Linked DNA regions of Homo sapiens: region 2 is linked to region 1. The links come from fine-mapping of genetic effects on gene expression. A gene starts in region 1. The other region holds a variant in brackets. All regions are shown on one strand. Distances are from middle to middle.

Region 1 (11,970 bases):
TCCATCTCAAAAAAAAAAAAAAAAAAAAAAAAAAAAAGGCGTTAAAAAGCAAGACCCAACTCTATGCTGTATATAAGAAACCTACATCAAATATAGACACAGAGAGGTTAGAAGTAAAAGAATGGAAAAAGATACACCGTGCAAGCACATATCAAAAGAAAGCTATTATCAAAAAGACAATAGAAAGAAGAAAATAGACTTCAAAACAAGGAATAGCATCAGGGACAAAGCAAGACATTAAATAATGAAAAAGGCTTCTATTCCCCAAGAAAACATAGTAGTTCCAAATGTGTATAACTAGAAATGGAGCATCAAAATATGTGAAGTAAAAACAAATAGAACTGGAGGTAGAAATGTGGACACTGTGGACAAATCTACAATTACAGATAGAAACTTTCACATTCCTCCCTCAGTAACTGAGAGTAAAAGTGAACAGAAAATCAGTAAGGATACAGAAGAACTGAATAACATTATCAACCAACCTGGCCTAATTAACATTTATAGAACACTTTACCCAATGACAGAAGAATACATATTTTTTCAAGTGCTTATGTACATGAAGTGAAACTATATTGTGGGCCATGATATACATTTAACAAATTTTAAAGAATATAAATCATATAGAGTTTGTTCTTAGATCATAATGGAATTTAACTAGAAATTAATAATAGAAAGATATCTAGAAATTCCAATATTGGGAAATTACATAAACTTCCAGAAAACCCTTGGATCAAAGAGGAAATCTCAGGGGAAAATTAAATAATACTTTGAAATGAATTAAAATGAAAATGCAACATATCCAATTTTGTGGGATGCACCTAAAGTAGTGCTTAGAAGGAAGATTGGCCAGGTGTGGTGGCTCACGCCTGTAATCCCAGCACTTTGGGAGGCCAAGGTGGGCTGGATCACTTGAGGTCAAGAGTTCAAGACCAGCCTGGCCAATATGGTGAAACCGCATCTCTACTAAAAATTCAAAAATTAGCCAGGCATGGTGGCAGGTGCCTGTAATCCCACCTACTCAGGAGGCTGAGGCAGGAGAATTGCTTGAACCCAGGAGGCAGAGGTTGCAGTGAGCTAAGATTGTGTCACTGCACTCCAGCCTGGGTGACAATGCGAGACTCAGTCTCAGAAAAAAAAAAAAAGGAAGATTATAGCACTAAATGCTTATATTAGAAAATAAGAAAGGTCTCAAATCAGTAATTTAAGTTTCCTCCCTAAGGAACTAGATAAAGAAGTGATTAAATTAAACCCAATGCAATCAAAAGGAGGAAAATAATAAAGATAAGAGGATAAATTAATGAAATTGAAAGCAGGGAGAAAGTAGAGAAAATAAACGAAACCAAAGGATGGTTCCTAAAAACTAATGTAATAAATGAAAACTGAGGCATCACTACAAATCATACAGGCATTTAAAGGATAATAAGGGAACATAATGAACAACTTTCTGCCAATAAATTCAAGAACTTAGACAAAATAGAGAAAAGCCTTGAAAGACACTAACGACACTCATTCAAGAAGATATGGATAACCCACATAGCCCTATATCTATTAAAGAAATAAAATTTGGCCAGGCCCAGTGGCTCACACCTGTAATCCTAGCACTTTGGGAGGCCGAAGCGGGTGGATCACCTGAGGTCAGGAGTTCGAGACCAGCCTGGCCAACATGGCAAAACCCTGTCTCTACTAAAAATACAAAAATTAGCCAGGCATGGTGGTGGGCACCTGTAATCCCAGCTACCCGGGAGGCTGAAGCTGGAGAATCTCTTGAACCCAGGAGGTGGAGGTTGCAGCGAGCCAAGATCGTGCCACTGCACTTCAGCCTGGGTGACAAGAGTGAAACTCCATCTCAAAAAAAAAAAAAAAAAAAAGAAAGAAAGAAAATTTGTAGTTGATAGCCTTCCCAAAAAGAAAAGTATAGGCCCAGATGTTTTCAATGGTGAGTTCTACCAATCATTTAAGGAAGAAGGAATACCAATTCTACACAACATCTTTCAGAAAATACAAGAGGAGGGAGAACTTCTGATTTCATTTTATGATGCCAGCATTATGCTAATATCAAAACCAAAGATAGCATAAAAAAGGAAAACTGCAGACCGATATCCCTCATGGACAGAGACAAATATCTTCAGCCAAACTATCAGCAAAGCAAATCCAGAAATATATGAAAAGAATAATATGTTACAACCAACTGAAGTTTATCCCATAAGTTCGAGGTTGGTTCAACATTTAAAATCAAGCAGTGTAATTCACCATAGTAACAGACTAAAAAATAAAAAACATATCATCATTTTTATAGATGCAGGAAACACAACAAAATCCAACTCATGAGAAGAAGCCTCAGCAAACTAGCAAGATGGGGGAGCTTCCTCAATTTGGTAAAAGGTGCCTACAAAAAGCCTACAGCTAACATACTTAAAAGGTGAAAAATGGAATGCTTTCCCTCTAAAATCAAGAAAAAGTCAAGGATGTCTGCTCTCGTCATTTCTATGCAACATTTATAGTATTGCAGGTTGCAACTACAGACAAGGCTATTAGAACTAATAAGTGAGTTTAGCAAGGCTATGGGATATGAGGTCAGTGAAATCAATTGACAAACCAATCCTAAAATTGCCATAGAAAAACAAAGGACCTAAAATAGCCAAAACAACTCTGAGAAAGAAAAAGTTTGAGGGCTAAAATAACCTGATTTCAAGAATTATTGTAAAGCTACAGTCATTAGTCATTAAACAGCATGTTGTTGGCATAAAACAAATAGATCAATGGAACAGACTAGAGAATCCAGAAATAGATCTACATGGATATGGTAAATGGATTTTTTTTTAGATAGTTTTGCTCTTGTCGCCCAGGCTGGAGTGCAATGGTGTGATCTCAGCTCACTGCAACCTCCACCTCTGGGGTTCAAGCAATTCTCCTGTCTCAGCCTCCCAAGTAGCTGGGATTACAGGTGCCCACCACCATGCCTGGCTAATTTTTTTTGTGTTTTTAGTAGAGACAGAGTTTCACCATGTTGGCCAGGCTGGTCTTGAACTCCTGACCTCAGGAGATCCTCCAGCCTCAGCCTCCCAAAGTGCTGGGATTATAGGCGTGAGCCACTGTGCCCTTCAGGTAAATTGGTTTTTGATGATGTTTCAAAAGTAAATCAATGGAATAAAGGCAGTCTACTCAATAAATAGTACTGGAACAAATGAAATCGGTATGCAAGAAAAGAAACCATGATACAAACCTCACAGCTTTTATAAAATTTACTCAAAATGGATCATAGATCTAAATATAAAATATCTAAATATAAAATATAAAATTATAAAACTTTCAGAGGCCAGGTACATTGGCTCACGCCTGTAATCCCAGCACTTTAGAAGGCCAAGGTGGAAGGATCACTTGAGGCCAAGAGTTGGAGACCAGCCTGCGGGCAACATGGAGAAATCCTGTCCTCTCTACAAAAAATACAATTAGCAGTGCATGGTGGGGAGCAGCTATAGTGCCAGCTACTCAGGAGACTGAGGTGGGAGGATCACTTGAGCCCAAGAGGTCAAGGCTGGGTGACAAAGGATCTTAGGCTAGATGAAGAGTTGTTAGATTTAACATTAAATCCATGATTCATAAAAGAAAAATTGTATTGGGGATTTCATTAAAATTTTTAAATTTTAGTTCTTCAAAAGAGGATGAAAAGACAAAAACTATGGGCTGCTAGAAAATATTTGCAAATTAAATATGCAACAAAGAACCTATATCCAGAGAACCTATATCCAGGGACAAAAACAGTGCCTGGCTCTTGGCATTGTTTTGAAAACTAAATGAGTTAATACAAGTTCTTAGTGTAGTGCCTGGCACATATAAACATTCAATAAAAGTGAACTATTATAGCTTTATTATCACTGTTATTATAGGACTCTTTAAAATGGATAAAAATAGATGCAAGCCAAATGTTCACCAATAGAGAAATTGTTATATTATATGTATTACAAGGAATATTTGACAATGCTTTAACGAATGAAGTAAATCTATATGTACTAACCTGGAAAGATGTCCAGGATGTTTGTGAACAAAGCAAATTGCAGGACCGTTAGTAGAATATGATCCCAGTTGTGCAAAAAGAAAATTATATATTTTCTGAAAAATTTTGTAGAATGGTACTCACTGAACGGCTCACAGTTGTTATCCCTGGGTTGGGGAGTGGAATAAGGAGGAGAGCAAAGGGAAGGTAGCGGGGTAGGGGAAATTTAAAGGGGGTCTTCACTTTTCATTCTATTTATTAACATAAGAATATATTTCTTGTGAAACAAAAAATACAGATGAAAATAACTATCTTTTAAAAGACCAGTGATAAAAAATAACTTTCTGATTGTCTTCACTGATGGATTCAAGTGGATGAAGTACAAGCCTACTTTGGACTGAAAGGTTTACCTAAAAACTGCCTGAGCTTCCATTTGTAACAGCAAACATTGATGGAGTGCTGCTTGCTGGCCTGGCAGCACGAATAACTGAGTTATTGTCCTGGTTGTGCCAATAACTAGTTTTGCTATGTTACTATTATAAATGTTAAACTATAAACTGGAATCAAGTCTTTTTTTTCTGTCTTCCCAGCCTGTAACACAGGGCCTAGTTCGGAGTTAGCGCTCCGTTAACGGGAGGGAGTGACAGGAATTGAATTTAAGCAGCTGTAACAGCCCTATCCAGGCCCCGTCGAAGTGACACATGATCACCATCTAGTGGTGAAAAAGATTCCTGCAGAATTTAGCTATGAGAGGAAAAAGAATTCTTTCTGTGGTGTGTTCCAGGGACAGATGCCTGTCAGCGAAAAAAGCATTGACTAGATATGATCTTTCTTAGAGACAGTTCCCAAACATCAAGGTTTATGTCTTGGAGTGTTGGTAAGATGACACCTAGGTACTCTTGTGTCTTAAGTCTAGTCACTGCCCCATCATCACACGCCCCACATATCTCTAAGCTGCGCAGTGTCCACTCTTGCCACATCCCCTAAAGGAATGAACCGCGTGTGATAATAGGCACACACACTCATGCCTTCCCAAAGTTGATGAAATACTAATAAACTTCCCTAAGCCAGTCTGCTTAAGATACAAAAAAAGACTGGGAAATAAAATATTCTATAATCTTTGCCCTCCAGGGGCATCTTTCTGTATCATCTACTGAAATTGTATAGTGAACCTTTAAAATGTCTGTCATTCCAAAGGACAACAAGGAAACCCATCCTGAGTCAACACTGCAAGCACTACTGTGTGACAAAAGCCTCACCTGCTCATGCAGGTGATGGGAGCAGGTTTTCTTCTCTTGCCTCCTTTGAGTAGCTTCACAGTTAAGGAAGCAGCTGGATAATGCAGAGGCCAAGAGATATTGGACCCTGTGCTTATGGACTCCTGGACTCAAAAGCAAATGATGTAGGGACACACTGGCACTTAGAGAAATCTCAGTATTTATGCACTCCTGATATTCACGTGCTAAATAGAACAACCTTCCTCTAAAGTTCTGTTCTGCAGAACAAACAACAAAAATCTTTTCAAAGACCCCTAAGAGAGAAACACACACTGTCTAGCCCGATGTGAATGGGGAAAGAGGGCTTGAGCAACTCTATGTTCAGGAAAATCTCCTGCCACACATTCTGGAAGTATTCATACATTATTAAAGTCTTTTTATAATCCCACCTCTTGAACTTCCACACAATATGTGCCTCATCTATGTGGGAACAAAAACAGTTGTGAAATTTGGCCAGAAGAGGACAGCAGTTTGAGAGCACTGTATAGACAAGAGCACAAGGCTGAACCACATTTGGGGTGGGCTGCTTTGGATGAGCGCAGACATGCGCGAGTTTGTTCCTACCACCGTGCAGTGAAGTTGCAGAGAAATTAGGAATTAAGAACAAGATGAATCCATCCAGCTACTCCCAGCCTAAAAAAAGCAAGAAGTCCTAATAGCTATTTATATGCAACTCCCTGGGGACTGAAGTGGTTCTTCCTAATGGCTGAAAAACACTGAGTAGCAATCAGGTCTTTAAGCAGAATGTTTTTAAGACCTTATCGTGAGGACGCTGATGGAGATAATGAACGTTTGAGGTGTCGATAGTACATCTTAAAACGGTAATGGAATAGGTAGGAAGATTCGCTCTTCCAAGTATTCCTAATTTCATATTAGTAAAAGTCAGTTGTCCAGCTGGCACTATAAAAGCGCGGTGTCAGCATTAAGAAGAAGCTGAAAGGAGTTACACGATGAGAAACGAGTTACACTGTGTAGGGTTCCAGACAGCAGTGTCCGATGACAGCTACAAGAGCAGCACTCCTTACTCCTTACGGTCCAGGGGGAATGCAGGCAATTCCCCTCTGGCTGTCAGTCTCCCTATCCCCTGCCGCGTCTCCTTCGCGGGGCGATGGGTCTCAGAGCCACCCCCAGCCAAAGAAAGGGGCACGCTTTCGAGATGTCTCCCTGGCCGCTCCTGTACGGAGAGTGGCGCCTGAGGTTTCAGCCCCAACCCGCCTCCCTCCGCTAGAGTCAGCGGCGGTCTGGAGTCCCTGAGCCCCGCGGGCAGGCGCCACCTGGTCTCCGGCCCGCTGCCTAGCACAGCGGCGAAGCTGGCTCGACGTGCGATTTCGGTTTCCGTCCGTCGGCCTCGCCCGCAGTCCCGGGCGCTGGGAGCGGCTGCGCCTGGCGCGCCCGGAGCCCAGCGGCTCCCCGCGGCCGCCCCGCGGGCGGGTGCCCCGGGACGCGAAGGCCGGGCGGGTGGCGGCGCCCCTACTCACGTAGCGCTGTAGCTTCCTCTCGGGGGGCGACTTAACGAGCCAGCCGGTGCACACTGCGTCGCCCGCACTCATCGTGGCCGCCGCCGCCGCTTCCTCCAGCTGGGCCAGCCGCCCGCGGCAGAAGGAAGTCGGGCCAAGGATGCCGGCGGGGCGGGCCCAGCGCCCGCCCGCCCAGCGCCGCCCCGAGCGGCCGCTGCGACCCCCGCCTCCGGCCGCCGCGGCCCCCGGGGAGGGAACCGACGCCGCCCGCAACCCAAGACGGCGGGAAAAGCAAGCAGCGAAGCCTGGGAAGCCCCTTCGAGCAACTGCAGCTCCGCCAGCGGCTGTGCCCGGGGGGGGGGTGTGGGGGGGGGAGCCTACGCAGCAGGGCGCCTGCCACTCTCACCCAGGGTCACGAGAAAGCGCTCGGAAGGAGCCCTGCGACCTAATGGGAGCACAGCCTGGAACCTGTTGCCCTCATGCCCCATCCCCAATCCGCCACGCCAAACGGGCTGGTCCCTGGGTCTCAGGGACCCTGGAGCTGAAACCCAAGTACCACCTGCATCTGCCATGTGCATAGTTCACGGAGAAACAAAAGCAAGACTCCTCTTGGACTTCCCTATTCCACTTGATTGCTTGCACAGTAGTGTGTTTTCTATGTCCCTCCCCCAAAGATCGTTGTATTCAGTGATAAGCTTTGCCGGCTAAACGGTCTAAATGTCTTAATGAACCCAAATGACCCAAACTCAAAAGGTAGTGCTGTTTGCAATCTCTTTGACTCGAAGGTTTTAAAAGATGGATCTAAAGTCGATTGTGCCAACTAGTGTGCTGACCACGCTAAGTAAAAATAACAATCATGAGCACCTAACACTTGTGACCTTCCTTACTGCCAAGCTAACACCATGCCAGCGATTGTGCTAAGCACTTTCCAGGCGTTATCTCATTGAATCCACACAACACCCTGTCAAAGGGCTCTTATTATTATCTCAATTTTGCAGGTTACTAAAATGAAAAACAGGATGACAGTGTCACTTGTCGAGAGCCACACGAGAAAATCATCCATAGGCAGCCAGAGCTGTGTCAAGAGCCCATCCACTTAAGCACCACCCTCTGCTTTTTGTGGGTATCATCTATGTGACGTTTGCTAGCATCTTCAACAGAATGACCAACCTCCCATCCTATCAGGCCAGATGCTTCAGGGTGATGAGCTAACATGGTAACACCAGTGGAGTCCATCAGCATGCGCACACTGGCTTATAATGATTTTCTTGTGTGAGATAATGTCAGTGTGAATAATGGGTTCAGTAAGTCAATGGGCAGGAGTGCCAGCAGAAATGTGAATTTTAAAAAAGCGAATCCATGTACAAAATTAGTACCTGTTCAAGTGAGAAAAAATTGCTGCCCCTTCCAGATGGCAGTCCAGGTGGCTGTCTGGTCCCCCCAGGGAATGCTGTTATTAAGGGTTCATTGTTTGTCTCTGCCTGTGGGCAGCTTGAGCACTTAGCAGTGGCTGTGGCCATATCAACTGTTGCCAGTCCCTGAGAGCCCCACTATGCATTGCTAATTCTCTAAGTCTTGCTTACACCTCTGTTAAAAAAAAAATCCCTTAATTATACTTTCCTCATTTCAACCCCTTGAGTCTACTGTTTGCTTCCTTTTGAAACCTTGACCGATAGACCTGGTCATGAGGAACTCCCTACGACATTCTGGGTGTAAGTCCAGGGAATGGTGATCATGCAGCAGCAGGGGCCACAAAGATGTGAGCCACCTGCTCTAGCAACTTTCCTGTACCTTCCAGACCTGCTTGAGTCTGGTCTCAAATATTCCACTTCCAAAAGAGGATGAAATAGCACCAAATTTATCAGTGGCAGCTGAAGTTCCATGGTTCTTTGGTGCCCCATGGTCAAGCATTCAGACTTTGCCACAGCCCAGGAGCAAGCTGGAAGCTGTTGGTCAAAAGGAAAATACTTCTTTTGTGGTAGAGGGCATGGTTTACTTCAAAACTCTAGGGCTTTGCTGTGTGTTTCTCCTACTGGGACTTGCCAGAGGCTCCGTGTAGCCTCCCAGTGTGTCAAAGGTCCTGTACCTGTTGAATCTACATGGTCATAAGGGTCAAGTGGCCTGGACCTGTCACAGAGCCTTTTCTTGCCCTGGATCTCTCCCCGAAAACATGCAACCCTACAGATGACTTGCTGAGTGCATTGGTGCGGCACAATTAAATGTAGCATATGTTGCCTACAAAATTCAAACATCCACACCAAATGCCGTGCCTCTTTCTGAGTGGTAGGTGGTAAGCGGTACAACAACATGTTGAATACCCAACGTGGTCCAGACCATCTAAAAACTTTGCTGAGGTTCAGGCTCTTGAGTTTTCATGGGGCTTATCTCCTGCCCTGTGGTGTACTTGTATCTTAATAAAGCATCTAGAGTATTCGCTACCTCTAGATCATCAGGTCCAGTACATATGTCATCAGTGTAATAAACCAGCACAACATTCACAACAATCAAGCTCCATTCAACGTGGATTATGACAGTGAGCCAGAGAATAGATATAGTCCTAAGGTTGTACTTCTGTTCCCGCTAGATGAAAGTAAGCTGCTTCTAGTGTTCTCTGCTGAATGGGAAAAAATAACATTTGGCAAAGGAATAGCTGTATCCCAGGTGCCAGGGGGCTATGTTGATTTGCTGTAGGAAAACAGCATCATCTGGAATAGCAGCTTCAGTTCGAATCACAGCCTGATTAATTCTACAATTACCCACTACTAATCTCCAGACTAGCCAGATGGGTTAAATAAAGATGTGATATGAGTAACTATTCCCGTATCTTTTAGGGTACCCTGTTCTCACTGCCAGAGAAATCGAAATTGTTCCTTTCATGGAAACCCATCTTAGCTTCTCTGCACTCTAGCCTGGGGAGAGGAGAGAATTTGAATAGCAAGTGATTTTTGGCACCTGCATTCCCTTTGTGGCTTCCCCATTTATTTTTTGTTTAAAATACACTTTGTTTCACAGTTCATTAACTTCTGTAAATCTTATAACTACAAACTTGTGAAAATAAATGCCTACTATTACAGAAGAGTTTCTATCTCAATTTCATCATGATGAGTCAAAGTGACTATGCATCTAACTTATTTGCTATGAAAAGAAAATTTGAAAAGAAAACTCTGGATCATAGACAGGCAGGGGAAACAGCTTCAAATGTGTGTGAGAGTCAGTAATGAGGAAAAGGACTGCACCTTCCTATATCTCCCACCTCCCACCCACCTCTTGATTTAATAAATCTAAGAAGTATGTGAATTAAAGGCCTGGAGTGCCATGGCACAAGTTCAGATAGGGGAACACTCTTTTTCCTCTATAGGCATCCATAAACGACTTCTCTATGAGTTAAAATCATCTAATTTTCATGTGGAATATGAAATTTGACTTTATTATTATCAGTGATAGTCTTTCATCATATCCATTATTGTTGTATTTAAAATTGCCCAAAATTGGTCAGGTATGGTGATTCACACCTGTAATCCCAGCCCTGTGGGAGGATGAGGCAGGAGGATCCCTTGAGCTCAGGAGTTTGAGACCAGCCTGAGCAACATAGGAAGACCTCATCTCTAAATAAATAAGAGATTGCACAAAATTGTTGTCATAAGTCCAAATCAAACACTTCTCAATTCATTCTATAAAGCCAGTATTACTCTGATACTTCCAAAACCAGAAAAAGTTAAAAAAAGAAGGCTACATGCCAATATGCCTCATGAATATAGACACAAAAATCCTTAGAAAAATACTAGCAAATAGAATCCACAAATACATAAAAATAATTATACACCATGCATCTCAGAGATGCAAGGCTTGTTCAATATTTGAAAACCAATTAATGCAATACAGTACATTAACAGACAAAAGAAGAAAAATCACATGATTTATCAGTTGATGCAGAACGAGCATTTGACAGAACTCATGACAAAAACTCTCAGAAAACTCTCAGAAAATGGGGGAATTTCCTCAATTTATTAAAGAACATCTGCAGAAGACCTACAGGTAACATCATACTTGCTGGTGAAAACCTGGACACTTTCCTCCTAAGACTGGGAACAAGGCAAGGATATCCACTCTCACCACTTGTATTCAACATAGTACTAAAAGTCCTAGTTCAGTACAATAAGATAAGAAAAAGAAACAAATGGCATAAAGATTGGGAAGAAAATGTCTCAATTTGCAGAAGATAATTGTCTCCTTAGAAAATCTCAAGGAATATGCAAAAACAACTCCCAAAACTAATAAGTGAGTTTTGCAAGGTTGCAGGATACAAGGTCAACACATAAATCTCTTTATACGATTTCAAGGCTTATTATAAAGCTACAGTAATCAAAACTTTTTGTATTGGTGAAAGGATAGACATATAGATAAATGGTACGGAATAGAGAGCCTGGAGATAGGCTCACATAAATTCGTCCAACTGGTTTTTGACAAAGGTGCAAAAGCAATTCGATGGAGGAAGGATAGTCTTTTCAACAAACTGTAGCAACTGGACGTCCATAGGCCGAAACCAAACAAAAAACCTCAACCCAATCCTCACACCTTATACAAAAATGAACTCAAAATGGATCCTAGATTTACATATAAAATGTAAAACTACAAAACTTTTAGAAGATAAAATAGGAGAAAATCTTTGGGACCTACGACCTGGTGATAAGTTCTTAGACATGGCACCAAAAATGCAATCCATAAAAGAAAAACTTGATGCCAGGTGCAGTGGCTTATGCCTGGAATCCCAGCACTTTGGGAGGCCGAAACAGGAAGATCACTTGAGCCCAACAGTCTGAGACCAGCCTGAGCAACAAAGGTAGACGGTGTCTCTACACCAATATTTTTTAAAAAAATTAGCCAGGTGTGGTGGTGCACACCTGTAGTCCCAGCTACTCAGGAGATTGATGCTGGAAGATGGCTTCAGCCCAGGAGATTGAGGCAGCCATGAGTGACAGAGCAAGACCTCACCTCAAAAAAAAAAAACAAAAAAAAAAAAAAGAAAAAAGTGATAAATTGGACTTCATCAAAATTAAAACTTGTGCTCTACAAAATACCTTGTTAAGAAGTATAAAAAGACAGCCAGGCATGGTGGCTCACACCTGTAATCCCAGCACTTTGGGAGACCGAGGCAGATGAATCACCTGAGGTCAGGAGTTCGAGACCAGCTTGGCCAATATGGTGAAACCTCGTCTCTACTAAAATTACAAAAATTAGCTGG
Region 2 (11,970 bases), 81 kb after region 1:
AGCTTAAGCCTTCATTACAGCTGCAGCTAATGGTATACACAGGTGAGTATAGAGGAGGAAGAATGAGGCACAGAGAGGCTGTGTGCAATCCTCACTGTGAAATGTCTTAATTAAAAATCAACAAGTATTACTGAGAGTCTACTATGTGCCCAGTAGCAAGTCCCAATTTTTCCTGGGACTTGATGTGTCCTTTATGACCACAGACTCCAGTCTTCTTTAATTTCTGCAACACTTAAAAAATTATAACTTGGCTGGGCGCGGTGACTCACGCCTGTAATCCCAGCACTTTGGGAGGCCGAGGCGGGTGGATCACGAGATCAGGAGTTCAAGACCAGCCTGACCAACATGGTGAAACCCCGTCTCTACAAAAAATACAAAAATCAGCTGGCTGGGCGTGGTGACGCGTGCCTGTAATCCCAGCTACTCAGGAGGCTGAGGCAGGAGAATCGATTCAACCCGGGAAGCAGAGGTTGCAGTGAGCCGAGATGGTGCCACTGCACTCCAGCCTGGGTGACAGACTGAGACTTCACCTCAAAAAAAAAAAAAAAAAGTCAGGAAACAACAGGTGCTGGAGAGGATGTGGAGAAATAGGAACACTTTTACACTGTTGGTGGGACTGTAAACTAGTTCAACCATTGTGGAAATCGGTGTGGCGATTCCTCAGGGATCTAGAACTAGAAATACCATTTGACCCAGCCATCCCATTACTGGGTATATACCCAAATGATTATAAATCATGCTGCTATAAAGACACATGCACACGTATGTTTATTGCGGCACTATTCACAATAGCAAAGACTTGGAACCAACCCAAATGTCCATCAATGATAGACTGGATTAAGAAAATGTGGCACATATACACCATGGAATACTATGCAGCCATAAAAAAGGATGAGTTCATGTCCTTTGTAGGGACATGGATGAAGCTGGAAACCATCATTCTCAGCAAACTATCGCAAGGACAAAAAACCAAACACCACATGTTCTCACTCATAGCTGGGAATTGAACAATGAGAACACATGGACACAGGAAGGGGAACATCACACTCTGGGGACTGTTGTGGGGTGGAGGGAGGGGGGAGGGATAGCATTAGGAGATATACCTAATGCTAAATGACCAGTTAATGGGTGCAGCACACCAACATGGCACATGTATACATATGTAACAAACCTGCACGTTGTGCACATGTACCCTAAAACTTAAAGTATAGTAACAATAAAAAAAAAAGAAAAAAGAAAAAGAAAAAATTATAACTTTTTCTTCTGTTGGATTATTTTGGTTCTCTTCATCGAAGAAATCATTCTGTGCCTCCTGCATCTACCATTTCTTCTCTAATCTTACTTTCACCAAACTGTTTACTTAATACTGCTTGCCTATATAATCCTATTTTCCATATTTTCTTTCATATTTTGCACCAATGTCTCTTTTTCTTCATGCTTCCTCATTTTGGTGATAGTTTTACTTTTTGTCTTTTACATTTTTCTTGGGATTTTCCAACTAATTTTCATCTTCTTCTTTTGTTTTGGTATACCTTATCTGCCCTGTTGTATTTCTGCATATAGCATTTACTATTATTATTATTGAGATGAGGTCTTGCTATGTTCCTAGGCTGGTCTCAAACTCCTGGCCTTAAGCAATCCTCCTGCCTCAGCCTCTGAAAATGCTGGGATTACAGGCATGTGCCACCATGCCCGACCTTAGCTATTATTTTATATTTTGTATCAAATGTTTTGAATTTATGGCAATATGTTAGTACATGGTTTTTATCTGCCCTGAGATATTTTTCTAGTGAGTATTCCTCATCTGCCATTTCTTGCTTATACGTTTCTTGTGTTTTCCATATAGTAACTCTGCATAGATCTGGTGCTGTTTCCTGTTGAATGAGGTAAACTCTTACTGGACCAGTTATTTACAGGAGATGTGCACAAGTCCAGAGCTATACTTTGGACTAACAAATTCTCTTCATGATGCTGAGGTATGTGTGAGCTCTTGTAGCCTTTACTTCTTTCCAGTCAAGTGAGAGCAGCAGATGTAGGTCTGAGCATAAAGAAGTTTCAGACTTTACCTTCTTGCCTCAACAAACTGCTTCTTAAAAATATGGCTTGCCTATATGCTTATTCATTCCAATTTACCTGTTAGGCTTCTACTTGGTGCCCAACTGGGTCCAGAAATGTTTCTTTCACTAGTTAGCTTGCTTGTTCCCAGCAAGGGCTTATTGGCTTTTCTATTCAGGTTAAGCCATCTACTTCAAAGAAGGAATTCTTTTTCTTGGCATATTGCCTGCTTTATCTTCACAGAAGTCCCTCTGAATATTAATTAACCAATACTTCAGATGCTTTTGATGCAGCTGACCTGCTGACCACAGTTTGAGTAACAATGACTTCAAAGATGTGGAACCAGACATATCTTGATTTGAGTTCCAGCTCCCTTGGTTGGTTGCTAGGTATACTAGTCAGGGATATTCAGCTGCTATAACAAACAATCCTGAGATCTTAGTAGCTTAACACAATAAAATTGATCCTTCACTCATGCCTCATTCTGATGTAAGTTAAGTTCTCCTCCACAAGGTGATTCAGGGATCCCAGCTCCTTCCATCATGTGGTTTCACCATCTTAGAGTCCTTCAGTTGAAGCCCTGCATATGTGAAAGAGAGAGGCAGCATGGACACATGTGCAAGACATTTTATGGCTAGGCCTGGAAATGTCATACATTCCTTTTGCTCGTATTTAACTGGCCAAATCTCAGTACTGTGGTCCCAGCCTAACTGGAAGGAAGGTTAAGAATATAATGTTACTCTGTGCTTGGGGAAGAAGGAACAGGATTGCTGAACATATAGCCAGTCTCTGTTACAGTCTGTCTTTCTGATCACCCAGTATCTGTTTCACTTTTCCTTTCATACGTGGAACACAGCCACCCTGTCATGCATATGGAAATATTCCACCCATATTTCCGCTTGAGAAAGGCCTTATTTCCCTAGCTGCTGAGAGTGTTGTCAGCAGAAAGCCTCTACCTGTCAGCTCATTCAGAGTCTGCCTCAGCTGCAGAGAGCTTCCATGTACTTTCTGGGGGCAGCCCACATCCAGTGAATGACTGAGGTGGGGTTAGAGAGGTCCAGCCATTTCAGCCATGTGGGACAACCCTGATGGGGCCGACTGAGTCTTTGTTGGGCTTGCAAGGCAGTTTGATTTCTCCCTTCCACCCCCTATCTTCCACAGGCATTGATCATTAATTATACTCTGAATGCCAAATTCCGGTCTCCCTGTCTAGTTTCAGAATACCTGACTTGTGGCAAACCCTTTCCTCAGTACTAAGTCACACTCATCACTGTGTCCAGCTCAAAGTCCAGAGTATCTGGGTGATGCTTAGTTCTCTCAAGTCTGAGGGTGGCTCTGCTTGGTTAAGTGACCTATGAACTAAAACGAGTTATATGCTCCTGATCTCCACACCCCAGAATAATGATGGAACAGGAAGAGGATAAGCACCATAAACATTCCCATTTGGAAATAGGAAGAATGAGAGACACACAGCAGTCACTGCTCTGTGGCAATCCTGGAGTCCTGGTAGGTAGGCATGGATTAGGCCCAAATCCTGCTTTCAAAGGGTGACTCTGTGGCCCATTGTCCATTCTCTGGGAGGCTCTACTGATCCATTATTCTCTATGGCTGCATCTGAAGCAAATGTTGGGACCTTCGAAGCTGGTGTCCTTCTTTTTCATGGAAAGGTGGAGGCCTAACTATTGTTTACAACAGATGGCTCATTTAGTTCTGGCTTATGGTTTCTCTGGCAATAAGCTTCTCTCAAAAGCTTAGCTGACTTCTAATCTATTTGTCTCCAATCAGTTCCATGTGCCAGTAACCACATCCAAGGTTGCTTCCTAGACACAGTTCTTGATCCTGTGATCATTTTGAGGTTACAGGAGCCATAGGTGATGCCACACCCTTAATCTGATCTTTATCCTCAGCCACTTTTATTAGATTTTTGAGCTCTGCAGGACCCCCCATTTCTATTCTCTATTCCCTTTTAGTTCCTCTTGCAAACTGGCCAACTATTTCCTGACCTCATCTCTTTAACACCTTTGTTGATCACTTTCATAGGTCTCCCCACTTGGACTCTGTCTCCCACAATAGCAATGACCTACCAATTTGTAATTTTTAATTGTCTTCTTTCTCTGCCTTTCTAGCAACAAGCACAGAGACAAGCAAGTAGTCATTTGTTGGTAAATACTGACTGAATTAACAAAATTTAGCTCAACTATTTTGTTTTCCTCAGGATTCTTTTGGCTTCATATGATTTATGTAGATAAATATTATGATAAATTTTCAGGAAATTGAGAGCACAGCTAATTATTTATTTTCTATGTATAGTTCTTGAGCCACAGGGAAGAAAAATTAGGAGTTAATAAAGTTGATAAAAGAAATGACCATTGGAAACACTAGTCATTAAATGTGACCTGTCAGTCACTGGTAACAAATGGAGCAAGTTGGAGGAAGTAAAAGAGAAAGTAGACATTTTAAAAGGGGGTTGCATGACCTTTCACAGTTTTCCTCCCAGAATTGAATTTCTTAAAACTTTCCCTTAATTACAGATATGCAGGCTGGTGAGCAACCTGTTTCTGTTCCCACCCCCCTTCACATTCCCTCTCTCCTCCCTGTCTCTTCTTCCCACAGAAGCTTACGTGAAGCAGCAGAGGATCCCCATTAGTGCTGAGGTGAGAAGAAAAGCAACAATGGCTGCTGGAGGTAAGGCACTCTTGATAAGTTGCCATAAGTAATCCCTGAAGTTGTTCAGCCAGGACCTGTGATTACCTGCAGAAAGAGCATAGACATTCATTGAGGAGAGGTCAAGTAAATGATAGGGCTGGCGTTTGAATCCAAATTCGAGTTCAAATAGTTGTCCCAGATATCATGTTCTTACAGTTGTCCAGAGCCCATATTCTAAACTACTTTGCTGTGCTGGCTGTAAGATGTTCAAAGGGCAAACATTTTGTTTTTAAAGTATCCTGAGATGGATATAATTTTTGCCTCCTTGTAAGTCAAATAGGAACAATAATTGTTGTTTCGGATATCTTGAGTATATTGGGTACTTTTTGAAAGAGAAGCATGACTTGATAACAAGAAAGTCTTTACTAAGGTGTTGTTGCCTAGAGTATATCTGGGAGTCCTGCAGGAGGCTGAGGAGAGGGAGTATCCCAGGAAGAGAAAGGAGAAGGCCACCAGCCCTAAGAGCAGAGGAGAAAGGGGCCAGGGCCACTGGAAGAAGGACCTCTAGGGGGAGTTTGCTGATCAATGTAAGGCTGGGGATGTTGGGTCTTTTCATTAGCAACTGGGGGAGGAAGGTACAGTGCTTTGACCCTGAAGAAAGAAGGAGGGGAAAACGAAAGTGTCTGCAGCATGGAGTTGAGAGGATTCACCACTAACCAGCAAGACACTTGAATAGCATGTGTGTGCATGTTGGAACCTAGATTGTGGATCAGTGGACCATCAGGTTTATTTTCAATTTCACCTCCTTTGTCAAGTCTTTCCTGACCCCTCCCCCAAAACAATTTAAATTATCCCCTTGTCCCCTGGGAGCATTGATCATACTCCATGGAAGGTTGGCATCTATGGCTTTGTCTGCCTATCTGTGAGCTCCTTCATAACAGAGGCTGTTCAATTCCTAATCCATGTAGTTCAGAAAAGGGCTTGGTACGTAGTAGGTAGGTTAATGCTTGTTGAACTAAATTGAACCAAACCAGAATAGTTTGCTTTCCTATGAACATTCTTTTTAAACATGAAATTCATTTTACCTGACCTGAACTGAAACATGAATCTTAAGTCCTATGAAGAAAGAAACATTCATCCTAACAGCAAACACACCCCCTGAGCGTGGTTTCGATCCTGTTTTTTCTTGTATTCCCAAGGCAGACAAAGGCAAAGGAGAGGAAGCTACTGTCTCCAACAAGAGGCAAGTTAGAGAGCATAGCAGAAATCCAATTATCAGCAGCTTCTGGGGTTCCATGGACTCCCGCCTTCAGCTGCGGCTGAAGAGCTGGTAATCCTAGCTCACTCTGCCAAGGAGAGATGTCTTTGTCCGTAGGTCTTTCCACAGAAACTTTGTCTGAAAAGTTAGACAATGATGGTTTAGCTCATATTCCAAAAATCTTCTCACCATCACGAACATAAGGACAATTGACTGACTTACACAGGTGACTCCTGAAAATGGTCAGTTTCCAAAGCAAAATATATCCCCTCCAAGAAAACAAAACAAAACCTGACTATGCTCTATCAGGTCAGATACCGGACATTCCTTCCTACACCTGATACCTTTTCAATCTTCCCCAACTCAATTAGTAGAAACTCTTTCACCTGTTCAGGCTGAAAAAGGTACATTCACATTGTTGTGCAACAGATCTCTAGAACTTTTTCAACTTGGAAAACTGAAACTCTAAACAGCTCCTCATTTTTGTTTCTATGAATTTGACTACTTTAGATACCAAATATAATAAATTTCTATATATTTTTAACTCCATGATATATTTTATATATTCAAGTAACAAACTTTAA[A/G]TTGCTTTAAAAAGTAAATGTTTGCTTAGATTTACATATATAGTAATGACTCTTCTTTTTCTCTCATACACTTTATCCATCAGAAAAGTCTAGTCACCTTTACTTACAAAACGTATCCAGAATCCTGCCACTTCACACCACCTCCACTGCTACCCACCATCATCTCTGTCTTTCTGCTTCCGTCCTTGCCTCCCTTAAGCCTCTTCTCCAGTGAGTGGCCAAAGAGATCTTGGTAGGTTGTAGGTCAGATTATGTCCTAGTTACTGCTGACCACATATCCTATGAGTCTCCTCTTGATCATCACTCCAACTTAGCCTCATTTCATTTTGAACAAGCTAGGCATGTTCCTACCTTGGGGCTTTTTAACTTGCTTTTCCCTTTCCAGGGAATGCTTTTCCCCCAGGTATTCTCAGAATTTATTTCCTCACCTCTGTCAGGTACTCAAATATCACCTTCTCAATGAGGATTTTCCTTAGATCCCATTGTTAAAATTGTACCACCCTCCTACAAACTTCCTAATTGTCTTACCTGCTTGATTTTTCTCCAGAACCTCATCAGAACCTAGTAGAATATATTTTACTTTACTTTATTATATGTATCTCCTGAATATAATGTAAGCTCTATGAGTGCAGGGATTTTTGTCTGTTTTGTTCACTGCTAAACAGTACCTAGCACATAGGGTATCCAGGTGCTCAATAAATATTTTTTGAATGAATGGCGACTTTTGGCAGATATTGTTCCCACCCATTTTTCATTTACTACATCCAACTAGATAAGCTGAAAAAGCTGAATCCTCCCTTTCTTAGCCATCCTTGAAGTTAGGCATGGCTATGTGACATAGCTCTGGATAATGAAACATAAGGGAAATCTGATGGATAGCTTTTGGGAAGGCTTTTTGCTGTCTTGATAAAAGAGATGGTGCTACCATTTTCCCTTTATGCTGCCTTGAATATTGCTTAAGAAATGTTGCCTGAAGTTGCTCTGATAATTTCAAGCCACTAAACTAACACCTGTATCTGCTTACTTCTGGACTGCATGGTATGAGAAAAATATACTTTTATTTGAGCCATTATAATTTGGGCCTCCTATTACTTAAGACATTTATAACTGATACACTCACCTACTGTTTGATACGGCTTAAAGAGACCCACATCCAGCGGGAAACCACTTACCTGAAAATGGACTTAGGACCACGGAATTCAAAGAAACCAGTGGAATTAGGCCTTAGTCTTTAGAGGGCAGAAGTCTTCAGAAGAAGCTGGTCAGTCTTCTCCTTAGGTCTCTGAAGTTCCAAACAGAATTCCACCACTCCTTATGATATCACTGATTACATTTAACCCTCCCCCAGTCTCCTTATTTGACAGCTAAGCACACAGACATCATTTTCTCTCTATGTATAAACATCTGTGTTGATACCAAAACCCATCCTTGCAGTAGTTCTATCCTCTTAGGCTTGAATAATTCTAAGATATTTTATTCACCACATGGTATCTAACTATGCATTATAATAACATATATATGTGGCATTTCATATCAGGGAAAAAGACCTTATTTAATATGATGTTGGGTGTGAGCCCTTTGCCATGCTATGCAAAATAGAAATTCTAGATGGATCCAGGACTAAACAAAAAATAAAATTATATACAAAATATGACATTTTCTGTCATACTTTTATGATAGAAAATTCTATGTGTGGATATTTTTATAATCTTGGTGCAGAAAAAGCTACTCTAAGCATGTCATAAAACCCAAAGCCATAAATGAAAATGCTGATAAATTTATAACATAAAAATGTAAAGCTTTCATATAGCAAAACATTGTTTAAAAAAGATAAAAGGTTAATGACAAATTAAGTAATTTCACAGCATATACGACAGACATTCAATTAAGATTGTTAACGTACAAAGAACTCTTACAAACTAATTAAAAAGAAATAGTACTGGCTAGGCACAGTGGCAGACGCCTGTCATCCCAGCACTTTGGGAGGCTGAGACAGGAGGATAGCTTGAGCCCAGGAGTTCGAGACCAGCCTGAGCAACATAGCGAGATCCTGTCTCTACAAAAAATTTAAAAATTAGCTGGGTGTGGTGGTGCATGCCTGTAGTCCCAGCTACTCGGGAGGCTGAGGCAGTAGCCTGGCTTGAGCCTGGGAGATTGAGGCTGCAGTGAGCTATGATCATGCCACTGCACTCCAGCCTGGGGGACATGAGGGGCTTAAAACCTAGATGATGGGTTGATGGGTGCACCCAACCACCGTGGCACATGTATACCTACGTAACAAACATGCATGTTCTGCACATGTATCCCAGAACTTAAAGTAAAAAAAAAAAATGCAAATCAAGTCGAGGCAACATAGCAGGATACTGTCTCTACAAAAAATAAAATATTAAAAAAATTAAAAAAATAATACTTATCCATAGAAGAACTGGCAAAAATGGTATCTCAGTTAGGTTCTATCAGAAAACAGAGCTACCAGGAAATACATAAAATGAAAGTTTTTGTAGAGTCCTCCAGTCTCCCCCAGTTTCTTGCTGTGTCATGCTAGAAAATCATGGAGTGGCTTGATCATTCTGTGACCCAGCCAACAGGCCTGAATGAAAATTAGGACCTTGAACATTCCCAGGCGCTGATAAAGGTGTATCTAGGTTGTGACCCGAAACACTGGAGGAAGCTGGCCCTGGCCCTTGAGCCAAATTCCTCTAAACCCTCATATGAGCTCCATACCCTGACCTTTCTGTGGAAGGAAAGGTGAGGTGAAGTGGAGAAAGCAAGTATACACTGGAAGCCTGAAAAGAGAAGAGCCCATGAAATGGACTAAAACCTGCATCAGTCTCATGTTATCTCCAAGCTTCTAACTTCGATGGTGGAGTAACATGCATGAGAAGGTCAGGTGTTTTCTGAAAGAGCTAAACACACAACTTTTCTAGGATTTGGAGAAGCTAAAAGATCCAGCAGGAGCTGGAGGACCTGCAAACTTGGTCACTGTCCTGTGCCCACCAGGTAACCCCACAAAATAGTGACAATGTGAATAAGCTGAAAATGAGCATTGTATGCCTGTCTGACTTTTCCATTGTAAAAAGAATATGGCTGTCATATAAGTTAACTTTAGCTGAATGAAAAATGACCTCCAACTTAGCAACTGTGAAGAAAACATTTATTACCTTATAGTTTCTGTAGGTTAGTTTTGGAGTGGATGATGAGATTGGAGTCATGTATCTGCTGGGACTGCAGTCATCTGAAAGCTTGACTGTACTGGAGGATCTACTTCCAAGATGGTGCACTCACATGACTATTGCTAGGATGACCAAAAGTCCCAGCTTGCCTGGGACTCAGGATTGGCTTCATGGGAGTTTGATCTATGCAGGTCTACAGGGCCCCACACCCTGAGGGGCCCTATGTTTCGTTTGCTCTGATGTCACTGTCTCGAAATTCTTAATAATTTTATCTTTGATCTTGTGTTTTGTAAGGGAAGTTTAATGAGACCGCCTATTTCATCACACTCATTTTCTCCTCCCCACTGACTTTGCCAACATTCTTCTCCCTTTGAGTCTCACTGAACTCTGATGCATTGTGGGTCCACTAGAATGTTATGCTCATGGGCACTGTATACATTCTTTGCTATTCTATTTGCACATAGTGTTTACAATGCATTTTTGCATTGTTGTAAAACTGTAGTAAGAACACAACGTGGTATCTGCTCTCTTAACAAATTTTTAAGTGCCCAGTATGGTATCGTTAGCTATATGCACAATGTTGTACATTAGATCTGTAGAACTTAATTCATCTTGCATAACTGAAACTTTTTTTTTTTTGAGATGGAGTCTCACTCTGTTGCCCAGGCTGATGGAATGCAACGGCACGATCTTGGCTCACTGCAACCTCCACCCGCCTCCCGGGTTCAAGCGATTCTTGTGCCTCAACCTCCCAAGTAGCTGGGACTACAGGCATGTGCCACCATGCCCAACTAATTTTTATATTTTTATTAGCGACGGGATTTCGCCATGTTGGCTAGGCTGGTCTTGAACTCCCGACCTCAGGTGATCCGCCCGCCTTGGCCTCCCAAAGTGCCAGGATTACAGGCATGAGCCACTGTGCCCAGCAGCATAGCTGAAACTTTATGCCCATTGAACAGAAACTCCCATTTCTCTCTCAGTCTCTCTCTCTCCATATAAGCTGTTCTCCTGGATTGAGGCTCCATTTCTGATTTATTTTATTCAGACTCTCATGAATTATATCATTTTTACTCTGAGTTCAATTTAATCTGGTTTTCTAACTCACTAATTTGGTTTTCTAGAGTGTCCATCTTGCTATTCAGTGCCCCTATTTGTTTTAAAAATCAGTGTTCACATTTTTATTTCCAGTGTAAAAACACAATTCTCAAAGGCATTTGTTTGTATGTGTCAATGTTTTATTTAACTCATTACTGAAGAAACCAGCAGGAAAATAAAAGAGCTAGTTCCATGAACATTTGAGAAATAGAGATGTATATAGTCAATGGGAAAAGAATGCCAAAATAAGATTATCAAGTTAAACATAACAGGAAATAAAACCATATCACCTTTGGGGTTAACTCCTCTACCGGGCTATAAAACAAAACAACTTATTCATTTCTGTAAGTTAGCCTCTAAACTTTAAGAACTTCACAGGGCTATAAACCATTTGCACCTGCATCATTTGTGGATTGTGACTATACTGTGACAGCTATGTTATAGTTTCCAAAGAGGTCAGATAAGGGTCAAGCAGGATTATTAGAAAATACTCCAGCATAGAAAAAAGTAGCCATTCTTTTGCCTTTTCTCAGATTGGGATCCATTTTTCTTTCATATTAGGATCTCCTGTTTTCCATTTGCCCTGGGTTGCAATCTTTGGATGCTTCCTCCAACTGCTCTATAACTTATCCTTGTCTCCAGCCCCCTTTACTATCAGGAGATTCTGTGTAGTCATAGTGAAGGGGTCAGGCAGATGGAAGGAGCAGTAAACCCTTCACAATCTTATGGGGGTGGAGGGCAAGAAGGGGGATCCTATTGTGTGGTGATATGGCAGACTGGAGTGTTTTTTCTGTTTTCACCAGTCCAATTTTCTTCTGACCTCCTTGATATTTCAACTATGTAAGTAGGACTCTAGTTTTCAGTCACGGTATATAATTTCCCCTGTTACATTTTTGTTGTGTTATTTTCAGCAGGAAATTAGTAGAGGGAGAGAGTAAACTGAGTGCATTATTAGAATTACAAAGTTTGTATCTCCTATCTCAGATAACCATGGATTTTCCTCATATTTCCACAGAAATATTAAATGTATGTCCTTTAGAAGCCTAATGTCATCATCATTTTCTTTCTTGGCCATCACAAATTTCAAGAAGACATTGTTATTTTATTTCAAAGCTTTCAACAATTGCATCCTCCTGACTTATTTTTTTATTGGTCAGAA

What was found.
Region 2: its variant is fine-mapped to the expression of GAB3 in whole blood (TOPMed, PIP above 0.99).

The regions. Positions count from the first base shown.
Region 1 is chrX:154,744,205-154,756,174 of GRCh38, forward strand. It overlaps GAB3 (GRB2 associated binding protein 3), which reads right to left and starts at 6,873. Exons shown (of 10, transcript NM_001081573.3): 1 at 6,750-6,873. The coding sequence starts at 6,821. RefSeq lists silencers at 6,519-6,578, 6,749-6,828.
Region 2 is chrX:154,824,859-154,836,828 of GRCh38, forward strand. SMIM9 (small integral membrane protein 9) reads right to left here and starts at 9,804. Exons shown (of 5, transcript NM_001162936.4): 1 at 9,705-9,804; 2 at 7,716-7,825; 3 at 5,857-6,097; 4 at 4,677-4,806. The coding sequence starts at 5,998. F8 (coagulation factor VIII) reads right to left here. Exons shown (of 26, transcript NM_000132.4): 26 at 10,934-11,970. RefSeq lists enhancers at 2,994-3,073, 3,094-3,143. The variant A/G (reference allele first, on the strand shown) is at 6,544.